Homo sapiens: one gene and its partners. The protein of the gene in region 2 purifies or fractionates together with the protein of the main gene of each other region. This does not show direct contact. Each region holds a gene or a part of one and is shown on either strand. Other genes may lie near its edges. The genes, in order: RNPEPL1, TMCC3 and POC1A.

Region 1 (3,649 bases), on a different chromosome or scaffold from region 2:
AGCACCACCTCCCACTTTCCCTGGGGTATTGCTTTGCCCCTGTGCCTCCCACCCCAGGAAGCTACAAGAGACAGGCTGTCCTGTCCCCACACTCTCCCTGGGTCCTGGGACTCCCTGTTCTGAGGGGCTAAGGTTGCCTGGGGCCAGAGGGCCCTCCCCAGGGACAACCATCCTCTCCCTGTGTCCCCTGCCCCCCACACTGAGGGAATGTCTGTGTCCTTGTTCCTCTGCCAGGGGCCAACTGAGGCTGCCAACCCCAGGGGCGGGGTGCAGGGCTGTGCGGGGAGGGTGGCTCAGATCCCTGCAAGGAGGCGTGCTGCAGGGACAGCACAGCCTGGGCCCCCGGCAGACATTAAGGCACAGTGTGGCGGTCACCATAGGGCTGCTGGGGCCCTTGCCCCGGGGCGGCACCTGGCAGGTGCTGGCATCCGGGGCTAGGCACAGCTGTCAGTGTTGAGACAGGAGGCATGGTGTGTGCGGGCTGGCCCCAGGGCCTGCAGTGCAAGAGAGCTGGGAGTGGGGAGGCCAGGTCCACAGGTCTCTGCCAGACACAAGGAGGTCCCTCTCCCCATTCTCCCTGCCTGGGAGAGCCCAGGGGAGGGGCTTGTGGGCCTGGGCAGAGCTCATGGCCAGAGCCGAGACGCAGTCATGGCAGGCCTGGCCCACAGAAGGCACAATTGTGGTGTCTGGGAGGTCGAGGGTCAGCCCGCCAACAGGGCTAGGCAGACACATTGACGTCCCTGAGAGAGATGGCACTGCTGGGGGCCTCGTCCCCAAGCAGCAGGGCCTGTGCGTCCGAGTCTGTGTCTGCTTCAGCCTTGCCCAGCTCCGTGCTGGGCTCTGAGGCGGGCTCTGTGCTGGAGCCCAGGCCCTGGGACAGGATCTGCTGGATGGCTCTGCGCAGGTTGGGGTGCAGCCGGCCCTGCGTCTGGTAGAAGACCTCCAGCGCGAAGGACTTGAGGGCACCGGTGCAGAGGTCCTCGTACAGCGGGATGGTGTACATGCGTGACATCTGCAGGAGGGGCACTCGGTCACACTGGTGGGCTCCCCAGGCCCCTCGAGCCAGCCCACCCTGCCAGCCCGGCCAGGCGGCCCTCCTGCCCCTGGCTTCCCAGCTTCATCATTAGGGCTGTGGCCTGGACTCCGGTGGCCAGGAGGCCTACCATTAGCCTCCCACCTCCACCCTGCCCTTCCAGGCCAACCATGGAGGCCCCATCTCCAGGGAACCTGGGCTGGAGGGAGCACATACAGGGAGCAGGGCAGCCAGGGCCCACGGGCCTGAGGGCTCTGGCCTCCCTCTGAGGAGCTGGGACGTCCCCTCTGCCCAGACCAGGACGCTGAAGGCCCAGGGCCCAGCAGGCTGTGGTGGCCTGGACCCTAAACTCCTGCTCCCAGCTGGTCCCTTCCACAGTTTCTCCAAGAACTGGTGGAGTCCAGGCTGCCCTCTGGTACCTGCACCCGGTGCATGCCCCCACTCCCAACAGACCCCTACGTCTTCCCCGCCCCATTCTCCAGAATGTGCCTGGCCTGCCCCAAGGGCTCAGACTAGGGAGTCGGGTGGGACTCCCAGTCCGCACGGCTAGGCCGTTCCAGGCTGGCCCCCTGGGCAGGTGACCGCACCTGGCTCTCCAGGAAGCGCCGCACCCTGTGGAGGTCAGGATAGTAGTCGTTGCGGACCACAATCTGCAGCCAGCGGATGCGGATCTCAGCGTTCATCGAGTCCAGCAGGGAGGAGTAGCACTTGGACAGGCTCATCACCACCTCTGCAGCGCAGGGGGCAGGTCAGGGCTGGGCCGCTGTTGCACCCCAGCCCCTGGGCCGCCCCCATCAGCTGCAGGGACTCACCCTGCGGCAGCGGGGACCCATCCAGGAGCCGGTCCAGGAAGAGTGCTGTCTGGAAGGTCCTCCACTTGGAGATGTCAATGGCGCTGGCCGAGGCAGCTGCCTGGTCCAGAGGTTCTGCGGTCCACAGCTGGAAAAGGGCCTCCACGGGCCGGGTCAGGCTGGATCCCTGAGACAGGTCCGGCTCAGCCAGCGGCGGGCCTGTGGCATTGAGCCAGCGCTCGAATTCCAGCCCTAGAGGGGAGAAGTGACCCTGGGGTCCCTGCCCAGGCTAGGAAGGGGCTGCCTGAGCAATCTGCCCAGGAGACCCCAGACCCTGAGTGTGTTCCAGGCAGGTGGCCTGTTCCAGGGACGTGGGCTGTTCAGGAAGGCGGAGTCAGCTCCAGCCAGCACTGCCACTTGAAGCCACTGAAGGGGCTTCTGTGAAGGGGTACAGGGAAGCAGAGACTTGGGTTGGTGACCAAGGGACTCGCACCCACTCCACGCCTCTCCTGGGTGGAAGACAATGAAGTAGTCTAAACCCAACCTCAGTGCTGGTGGAGGCCACCTGCGCCATGAACCAGCAGGGGCGGGATGGGGGCAACAGGCTCTTAAGATGATATTCCTGCTCTTAAAGGGCAGTGCCCATTCCCTACCCACAAAAAGCTCTTGATGCACTTGCTGTACCTTCCAAAACTTGGTGTCACCATGCACAGCCCTCCCAGTGGCACCTCACCACCCTCCAGCAATTCTGGCCTCTCCCTCAATGTCTGAACCCTGCAGTGCCTTCCTGGGCCCCAAGCCCTCAGACCCTCAGGGACACCTTTACAAGTGACACATAAACAGGGCTGGCTGCTGTTCTCCAGCTCCAGGACACCCCCGTCACCCGCCCTTCCTGCACCAGGCCCTTTGCACACCTGGTTTCCATGGCCCGCTTCCTGGGAGTGCCTGACTCGGCCTGCTTAGCCTGTGCCACCGGCCCCAGGGAGGCCCCCAACCCCAGCCCTGTTCTCATAGCATACCAGCCTGGGGCCCACATGGTCCAGCAAGGGTTGGCTGAAGGACAGACAGTGAACTGACAGGGCTTTCCTCCAGGTGGAGTGGCCCCTCAGGCAGCAGAGGCCCCGCCTGCCATCATACCCACGGCTCCCTGGCTGCAGGGTTGGGGGTCAGCCTCACCTGCCCGGCAGTCCACGCTCTGCTCCTTCAGCTCCGGGAAGAAGCTCAGGAAGGAGTCCAGCAGGTCCTGGGCCACCACGCTGGTGAACTTGTACTTCTCCACATAGGCCTGTGTGGCAGAGGTGGGGCCTCAGCAGGCCTGGAAGGGTGGGGCACAGGCAGCCCCACCAGAGGCCTGCAGGGCACTGCAGGGCGTGCGCCAAGGTACGTGCTGGGCACAGGGGCAGCTAGTGGGCACTGCGGAGCCAGCACTTGGCACGCAGGCCCTGCCAAGGGAGCAAACAGGGTGGCAGAAGGGGAGGTGGCAACCCAGGCACTCCCCACAAAGAAAGGCAGACTAGGTCCCAGCCAGGCTCACAGGCCCCTGCCAGTTCCACCCCAACTGCCGCAAGAGCAGGCAGCCCTGTGAGCCGGGGAGGGGCTGGGGGCAGATGGCAGCAGGGCCGTCCCGGGCAGGGGGCTGCTCACTCGGAGAAAGTCATCAAAGCGCTGTGGGTCTCCGCAGAGCTGGGACAGGTAGTACACGAAGCAGTAGCCCTTCTCGTAGGTGAACAGGTTCATCAGGTGGCTGGGATTCACTCCTGCAAGGTGAACACCCACCTGGGCTGGCGTCCGAAACCACCAGTGTCCCGTGGAATAGGGAGGGGCA
Region 2 (3,649 bases):
CTGACCCGCCCATCTAGGATGGTGTCCCACTGTGCTGCTGTGCTCCCTCCTCTGGAATAAAGCACTGGGCAGGATTTATAACGTGGTGAAGTGTTAATACCCGTTGTTGGATATGGTCCATATTCAAGTCTGGATCACCTAGAGCATTAGTCTGTTCTCACATTGCTATAAAGAAATACCTGAATCCTGATAATTTATAAGAAAAGAAGTTTAATTGGCTCACGGTTCTGCAGGCTGTGTACAGGAAGCATGGCTTCCTCTGGTTCTGGGGAGGCTGCGGGGAGCTTTTACTCATGGTGGAAGGCAGAGCGGGAGCAGGCACTTCCCACGGCGAAAGCAGGAGGATGCCTGCAAGAGACGGGAGGTGCTACACACTTTTAAACAACCAAATCTCAGGAGGACTCACTACCATGAGAACAGCAGCAGAGGGATGTTGCTAAACCATTCATGAGAAATCCGCCCCCATGATTCGATCACCTCCCACCAGGCCTCACCTCCAACACTGGGGATTACAATTGAACATGAGATTTGGATAGGGACACAGATCCAAACCATATCACTTAGTGGGAGATTCATTAATTTTTTACTAATTTTTTTGCTGTCAGCCCACTAATTCCTTAAAAAAAAAGGTAACATGCTGAATATTGTCTTGCTTCTCATTTGATTTCTATTAAGACTGTATATCAAGTCATTAATCTAATCAAAGGGATATTGACAAATGAGATGCTTCAGTTTGGATCTTAAGACTTGTTTGTAGATTGTGTTTGAACTCTACAAAGAGCTGTTTTTCATCCTCCAGGAACATCAACAATGGAGTGACCTGACATGGAAAGAGGGTTACAGTTAGGATGACTTGGATTCAAATCCTGGCCTTAACCCTTGGTGTCTACATGTTTATGAATCTAGCATGTTCTTTGTCTGGCATGGTAGTGAAGTGAGACAACCCATGAGAGGCATCCATAGACCCTGGGATATGGTCTACTTCTGCCTTTTCCTTTTAGAGCACAAACTTGCCACCCCCTTCACCAGGAAACTCAATGCTGCGTTGCAGTTCTTTTCCCTAAATGGCCCTTGAGTGAGAAAACTATTTTATGTGGTCTTAGTTTTCTCATTATTTTATTTATTTATTTTTTGAGACAGAGTCTCACTCTGTTGCCCAGTCTAGATAGAGTACAGTGGTGTGATCTCGGCTCACTGCAACCTCCACCTTCCGGGTTCAAGTGATTCTCCTGCCTCAGCCTCCCGAGTAGCTGGGATTACAGGTGCCCACCACCATGCCCAACTAATTTTGTATTTTTAGTAGAGATGGGGTTTCACCATGTTAGCCAGGCTGGTCTCAAACTCCCGACTTCAGGTGATCCACCTGCCTGGGCCTCCCAAAGTGCTGGGATTATAGGTGTGAGCCACCTCGCCCAGCAGCGCCACGCCCCCACCCCCCGGCCTTTTTTTTTTTTAATATCACTGTGGTGTGGTTTGAGGTTGTTTCCATATCTAAATACTGTTGTATTACCCAATTATTAAAGTTAATCTTGTACCATATTATTCTATCACATCTATTTAATGATTCCATTAAGAAAATAATGTTCTTGTTTGATGGATGTACCTGCTCGTATCTTTTTCCCTATTTTTCCCCATCTTTCTTTTTTAAAAAAAAAAAAAAAAAAAAAAAAAAAAAGATTCTCCTTCTATTAAGTGAGTGAGTTCTGAGTTGGATGCGTTCCCCATAGTGGTGAAGTTCCCAGTGAATGTGGTATGGCAGGCATTCCAGTTACCTGGGCACTTTGGGAGACCGGGACTGACTGGTGACCTCATTCTATTTTGCGTTTTCTACCCTGGGAGCCAGGTTACAGTCTCATTACACAAAAAAAGTGGATACCCTGGGAGATCTGAATCTCACAGCTACTTAGTGTAGATGGATGCAGGAAGGAGCCAGGCTGCCTCTATGTTCAACTGGAGGGGACAGCAGGGGGATTTTATCCCGTGACACTTGTAGTTCGAAAAACTGGGACTTCATGTATGTATCTTGTATGTGCATAGATTCTGTCACAGTAATTATCTCTTTGACTTCAAATTTTAATGTGCTTCTTTCCTGTCTCTTTCAGGTAGAACGTCATGACATGAATACCTTAAGCCTGCCCCTGAACATACGCCGAGGGGGGTCAGACACCAACCTCAACTTTGATGTCCCGGATGGCATCCTGGACTTCCACAAGGTCAAACTCACTGCAGACAGCCTGAAGCAAAAAATTCTAAAGGTAACAGAGCAGATAAAAATTGAGCAAACATCGCGCGATGGGAATGTTGCGGAGTATCTGAAACTAGTGAACAACGCAGACAAGCAGCAGGCGGGACGTATCAAGCAAGTCTTTGAGAAGAAGAATCAGAAATCAGCTCACTCCATCGCCCAGCTGCAGAAGAAGTTAGAGCAGTATCATCGAAAGCTCAGAGAGATCGAGCAGAATGGAGCCTCTAGGAGCTCAAAGGACATTTCCAAAGACCACCTGAAGGATATACATCGCTCTTTGAAAGATGCCCACGTGAAATCTCGAACTGCCCCCCATTGCATGGAGAGCAGCAAATCGGGCATGCCAGGGGTCTCACTTACTCCACCTGTGTTCGTTTTCAATAAGTCCAGAGAGTTTGCCAACCTGATCCGGAATAAGTTTGGCAGCGCCGACAACATTGCTCACTTGAAAAATTCCTTAGAGGAGTTTAGGCCAGAGGCGAGTGCCAGGGCCTACGGGGGCAGCGCTACCATCGTGAACAAACCCAAGTATGGCAGTGATGATGAATGTTCGAGTGGCACGTCAGGCTCGGCCGACAGTAACGGAAACCAGTCGTTTGGGGCTGGTGGAGCCAGCACACTGGACAGCCAGGGCAAGCTCGCCGTGATCCTGGAGGAACTGAGGGAGATCAAGGATACCCAAGCTCAGCTGGCTGAGGACATCGAGGCACTGAAGGTGCAGTTTAAGAGAGAATATGGTTTTATTTCTCAGACCCTGCAAGAGGAAAGATACAGGTATTTCAAAGTATTCCATTGGCGTGTTTTTTATTTTTTATTTATTTATTTTTTTATTTTATGTTATTTTATTTTTTCATTTTGAAAACTTTTTTATTACCACGGATACTTAGTGGGTACGTGATAGGTGTGGCATTCTTTTAAAAGGATGAGTTACTGCAGAGAGATTGCTTGAAATAAGAATGCCTTATGGTTACATTTTCAATAAATATGGATATGGATTAAAGGGCGTTTAGCAATCAATACATCCCTAATGTATTGATGCATCCCTCATGCAAAACTCTGAAATCCAGAATGTTCCCAAATCTGAAACTTTTGGAGTGTCAGCACAATGCCACAACTGGAAAATTCCACAAATAAATACTTAACACAAACTTGAGGCACAAAATTATTTAAAATATGGTACACTTTTACCTTCAAGCTATGTGTATATGATGCATAGGAAACAAATGAATTTTGTCTTTAGACTTGGGTCCCATTTTTGAGGTATCTCCGTATATATATGCAAATATTCCAAAATCTGAAAAAAATCAAAATCTGAAACACTTCTGGTCCCAAGCATTTCAGATAAGGGATACCCAATAATTTCCATCCTTCATGATTCTAAGTTTATAATTTGTGGCTTTTAGC
Region 3 (3,498 bases), on a different chromosome or scaffold from region 2:
GGCATGCAGGCTCTGCTTCCACCTGGAGGCTGCAGAGGCTGTGAACCCACTGACCACGTGGTACTGACAGCTCCTGGGACGATCTAACACCACCTCCCATTCCCCAGGGCAGGGCAGGTGTGTTTGAGGATAAAGACCTCCTTGGCTGGCTGAGCCCCAAGAAGCTGAAGACGGAAGGCACGGGCGACACACAGACACAGGGAAAACATTTGTCCTGGCTTCCCCAGCACAGGGGCAGAGGGAGGACCCTATGGAAGCCCTCAGGAGCAAATGGAAACTTGGGTGCCTGAGGCCTCTGAGTCCCAACAGAAGCAGTCAGTGGGGGCCAGCCAGAGGGAGGTGGGTGCATGCAAGGGCTCTGACTGCCCTTGTTCCCCGACACCCTGAACAGCTGCAAACAGGGGGGTCCTGGCCTCAGAGGCAATCCTGGCAGAGGCCGTCCCAAGTCACCATTCTCATTCTGTTTGGGCCCTGGGGATGGGAAGATTGATTAAGTGTCATCCAGCATAAGCCACTCCTGCAACAAGTGCAATGAAGTCAGGTTTAATTTTGAGATTCCTGTGCCCTCACTCACGCAAGGAGGAAGTCACCTGGCTCCAGTGAACACGTGTGGAACAGAAATCAGGGCCACTGAAAAGCCACCACCCACTTGAGAGGGCTTGTTCTCAACAAACCTGACTCAGATGGGCCCACTTTGGGCCTTTAGTCAGATTTAGAGAAAACCCCCGGCTCATCCAATCAATGTGCAATCAATTTCTACACCATGGCAGAGGTAGGAAAAGCCAGTCACATGTCCAAATGATGAGTGAAAATCAAGGCATCGTGGAGCCACCTCCTCCAGAGGGGGAGCCACAATCTCAGGACCCCGAAGGAGCAGACATTTTCAAGTGGCTCCTTTACATTAAGCAAAATGTGGTCCTCTCATTCGGGTCTGAAGCATCATTTGTGTGTGAGCCCGGCCCACTGGGGACCTCTGGCTGCCAGGTGGAGAGCCTCCTGGTGCAGATAGCAAGGTGGAGGGCAGAACTGCAAAAATCCAGGGCTCCAGTATGGATGTGATTCCCACAGAGTTCAGTCCCCTTTATTTACCCAAGTCCCATGGTACAAATCCCTGGCCTGCCACCTGCAAATCCACCGAGCTCCTGATTCCTGCTCCCCTGATCATGGTGTTGCTCTCTGCATGATTAGCTGCTGGTTCTCCAGACACTGCTTCAGCTTGTCTTCTGTCAGTGTCAACCGCTGCTCCAGAATGGAGACTGTCTGCAAAATAAACAGTGGTTGGGTCAGAACACAGAAGGGCCGCCAGGCTGCTCTAGGGACCCCCTTGGCCAGTCCCCACTTGGCTGCCTCAGCCACTGCCCAAATGCCAGCTGGCTCTTTCCACCCAGGGGTTCTGCCAGGCCCCTTGTCTCTGGTGCTATTGGGATAGCCCTTGCCTTTATGTCTGCTTCTCCTGGCTCTGGATGGCTGATCTATAATGTTTGTGGGCAGGGGGTGGGGACACAGTGAGGGAAACTAGATGGCAGGTCCCATAGCCTTTGGTCATTTCTCAAGAGAACCAAGGGGTCAGGAACCCCCCACCCTGGTGGCCTGGCATTTATATTGGAGTTCTGCAGCAAAACCAGTTTCCTTGTCTGAGCCAGGCACTGTCCATAAACAACTGGAGACCATCAACCACCTCCACTCCAGAGGTGAGAAAATTGCACCCACAAATGATGGCACTCCACTTGGGTCCTTCCCCTCACACCTGGAAGAGCCTCCCAGGCTGGCAGGGGACAAAGGCAGGGAGGTGAGTCCCCTGATCCCAGGAGGGTCTCTGCCTGTCCAAGTCCAACGAATACTACTATAGGATATGTCATGTGGGACTTCAGCCCAGGGCAATCACAGGCCATGACAACTTCATCTCTCTGAGCCCACTTTCTCCTCCTTCGCCCAGTGCGAAAGACAACCAAGCTCATGGCCTAGGTAACTCAGCAGCCCAGCAGTTGCTCACTCTGACCATGCTTGTCAGAGTGCTTGTCAGGCAGATCATGCTGCCTTCCTGAAGCTGGGCCCTTGCTCTCCTGGCCTCTCTTACACACCCAGCACAATGGCTCACCTGCGGACCTGGCTGCCTGGCCTGCCAAAGGCCCCCAGCTGCTGGAGCTGCATGTGCTTCATGGGCCAGGGCCAGTCTTGCAGACATAGCTCCCAGACAGGCTGGGAAAAGCTGCCCTCCTCCTCTGGCTTTGGATAGAGTGTCAGCAGAGGGGCAGCACTGTCTGGGAGCCTGCATGCTCCCCAAAGAGGGGCTGGACCAGAGCAAGCCTGCCCCACTCATCACTTGCGCGGGTTGGACCATGCTGGCCATGACGCCTTTGGCATCATTTCACTTCCCTCTTTAGGGTTGGCTGAGTGCCTTACTGTATGCCAGGCCCCTGCTGGCCAATGGATGAGCCCATGTGAGTATGGCAGCCTTGACTCCGGTACTGTGCAGCCCATAGGCATCAGGAGGGTCAGATTAACCTCACCCGTGTGCTTTCCCAAGAGGTTTTGCCCCCTTCCCTGGGGCTCCATGAAGTCCTGGGCCTTGGTCCAGTGGAAAGGAAACTTTCTTTCATACATTTAATAAAACATTGAAACATTTTAGAAGGGAGTCTCCCCCTTTAAGGCTGCTATAAATTCTTGCAGCGTCCGGCACAGACATTAGCTGCCATGGAGGGTGCTCCGCCTGGTGGCTGGCCCCTTCTAAATGGGCCAATCAGGGCTGTGAGGGCTCTGAACCCTCTGTCACTGGACAGAGCCTGGAAAAATTGCTGCCCATGGAACACAAACTGCACCCTAAGAGGCAGAGCTGAGCTGAAAGAGACCATCACATTCCCCCTGTGCTGGCCAGCCAGCCGGGGAGGGGGTCTGCAGCTCGTAAAAGTGGCAGCGGAAACAGCCCCTGGCTGGCCCGGGGCAGCATTCCTGGAAGTTTCCACTGGCTGCTGTGAAACTCATAGGGCCAAAATCATTCTTCATCCAGACTTTTTCCGATGGCCCCAAACTCAAGGCCGCAGCAGAGGAGCCTGTTTTTCCTCTTCTGCCTTTTTTTTTTTCTTGAAACTTTTCACAGGAACCCAATTTGCAAACGTGGAGATAGTGGGCCCAGAAAACGTGGGTGAGGTGCTGGGCCAACGTCAATACAAGGGACTCCACTTAGTTCCATAGGGGGCCCATACTTCAGCTCAGTAGGAATGTGACCACTAAATGTGTCTAAATTATTTGAAAAGAGAAGCATCACCTGTTTCACAACCAGCCCCCTGCATGAAGGGTGCCACCCCGTTGAGGCCTTCCTCTGAGAGCTTTGAGGATCACTTCACAGCACAGTAGACAAACAGGCTTTTATGAGGCCCAACACCCCTCAAGGCAGTTTCTCCCCCTCCAGCCTAGCTTCAGAGGAGCTGTGTCATCTCTGTGTTTGGTCTCAGCTTCCCCTGTTCCTTCTCTGCCAAGGTGCCTCGTGGTGGCCACCAT

The links.
Region 1: the proteins of TMCC3 (region 2) and RNPEPL1 purify together in Homo sapiens (affinity purification with mass spectrometry; one large-scale study listed by BioGRID and IntAct). This does not show direct contact.
Region 3: the proteins of TMCC3 (region 2) and POC1A purify together in Homo sapiens (affinity purification with mass spectrometry; one large-scale study listed by BioGRID and IntAct). This does not show direct contact.

Annotation. Positions count from the first base shown.
Region 1 is NC_000002.12:240,574,962-240,578,610, reverse strand, and holds part of RNPEPL1 (aminopeptidase RNPEPL1), read right to left. Parts: intron 3,582-3,649; coding exon 3,469-3,581; intron 3,110-3,468; coding exon 3,001-3,109; intron 2,077-3,000; coding exon 1,846-2,076; intron 1,764-1,845; coding exon 1,621-1,763; intron 1,013-1,620; coding exon 719-1,012; 3' UTR 1-718. UniProt on the Homo sapiens protein: Broad specificity aminopeptidase which preferentially hydrolyzes an N-terminal methionine, citrulline or glutamine.
Region 2 is NC_000012.12:94,580,992-94,584,640, reverse strand, and holds part of TMCC3 (transmembrane and coiled-coil domain protein 3), read left to right. Parts: intron 1-2,102; coding exon 2,103-3,019; intron 3,020-3,649.
Region 3 is NC_000003.12:52,074,726-52,078,223, forward strand, and holds the end of POC1A (POC1 centriolar protein homolog A), read right to left. Parts: intron 1,261-3,498; coding exon 1,162-1,260; 3' UTR 501-1,161; downstream 1-500.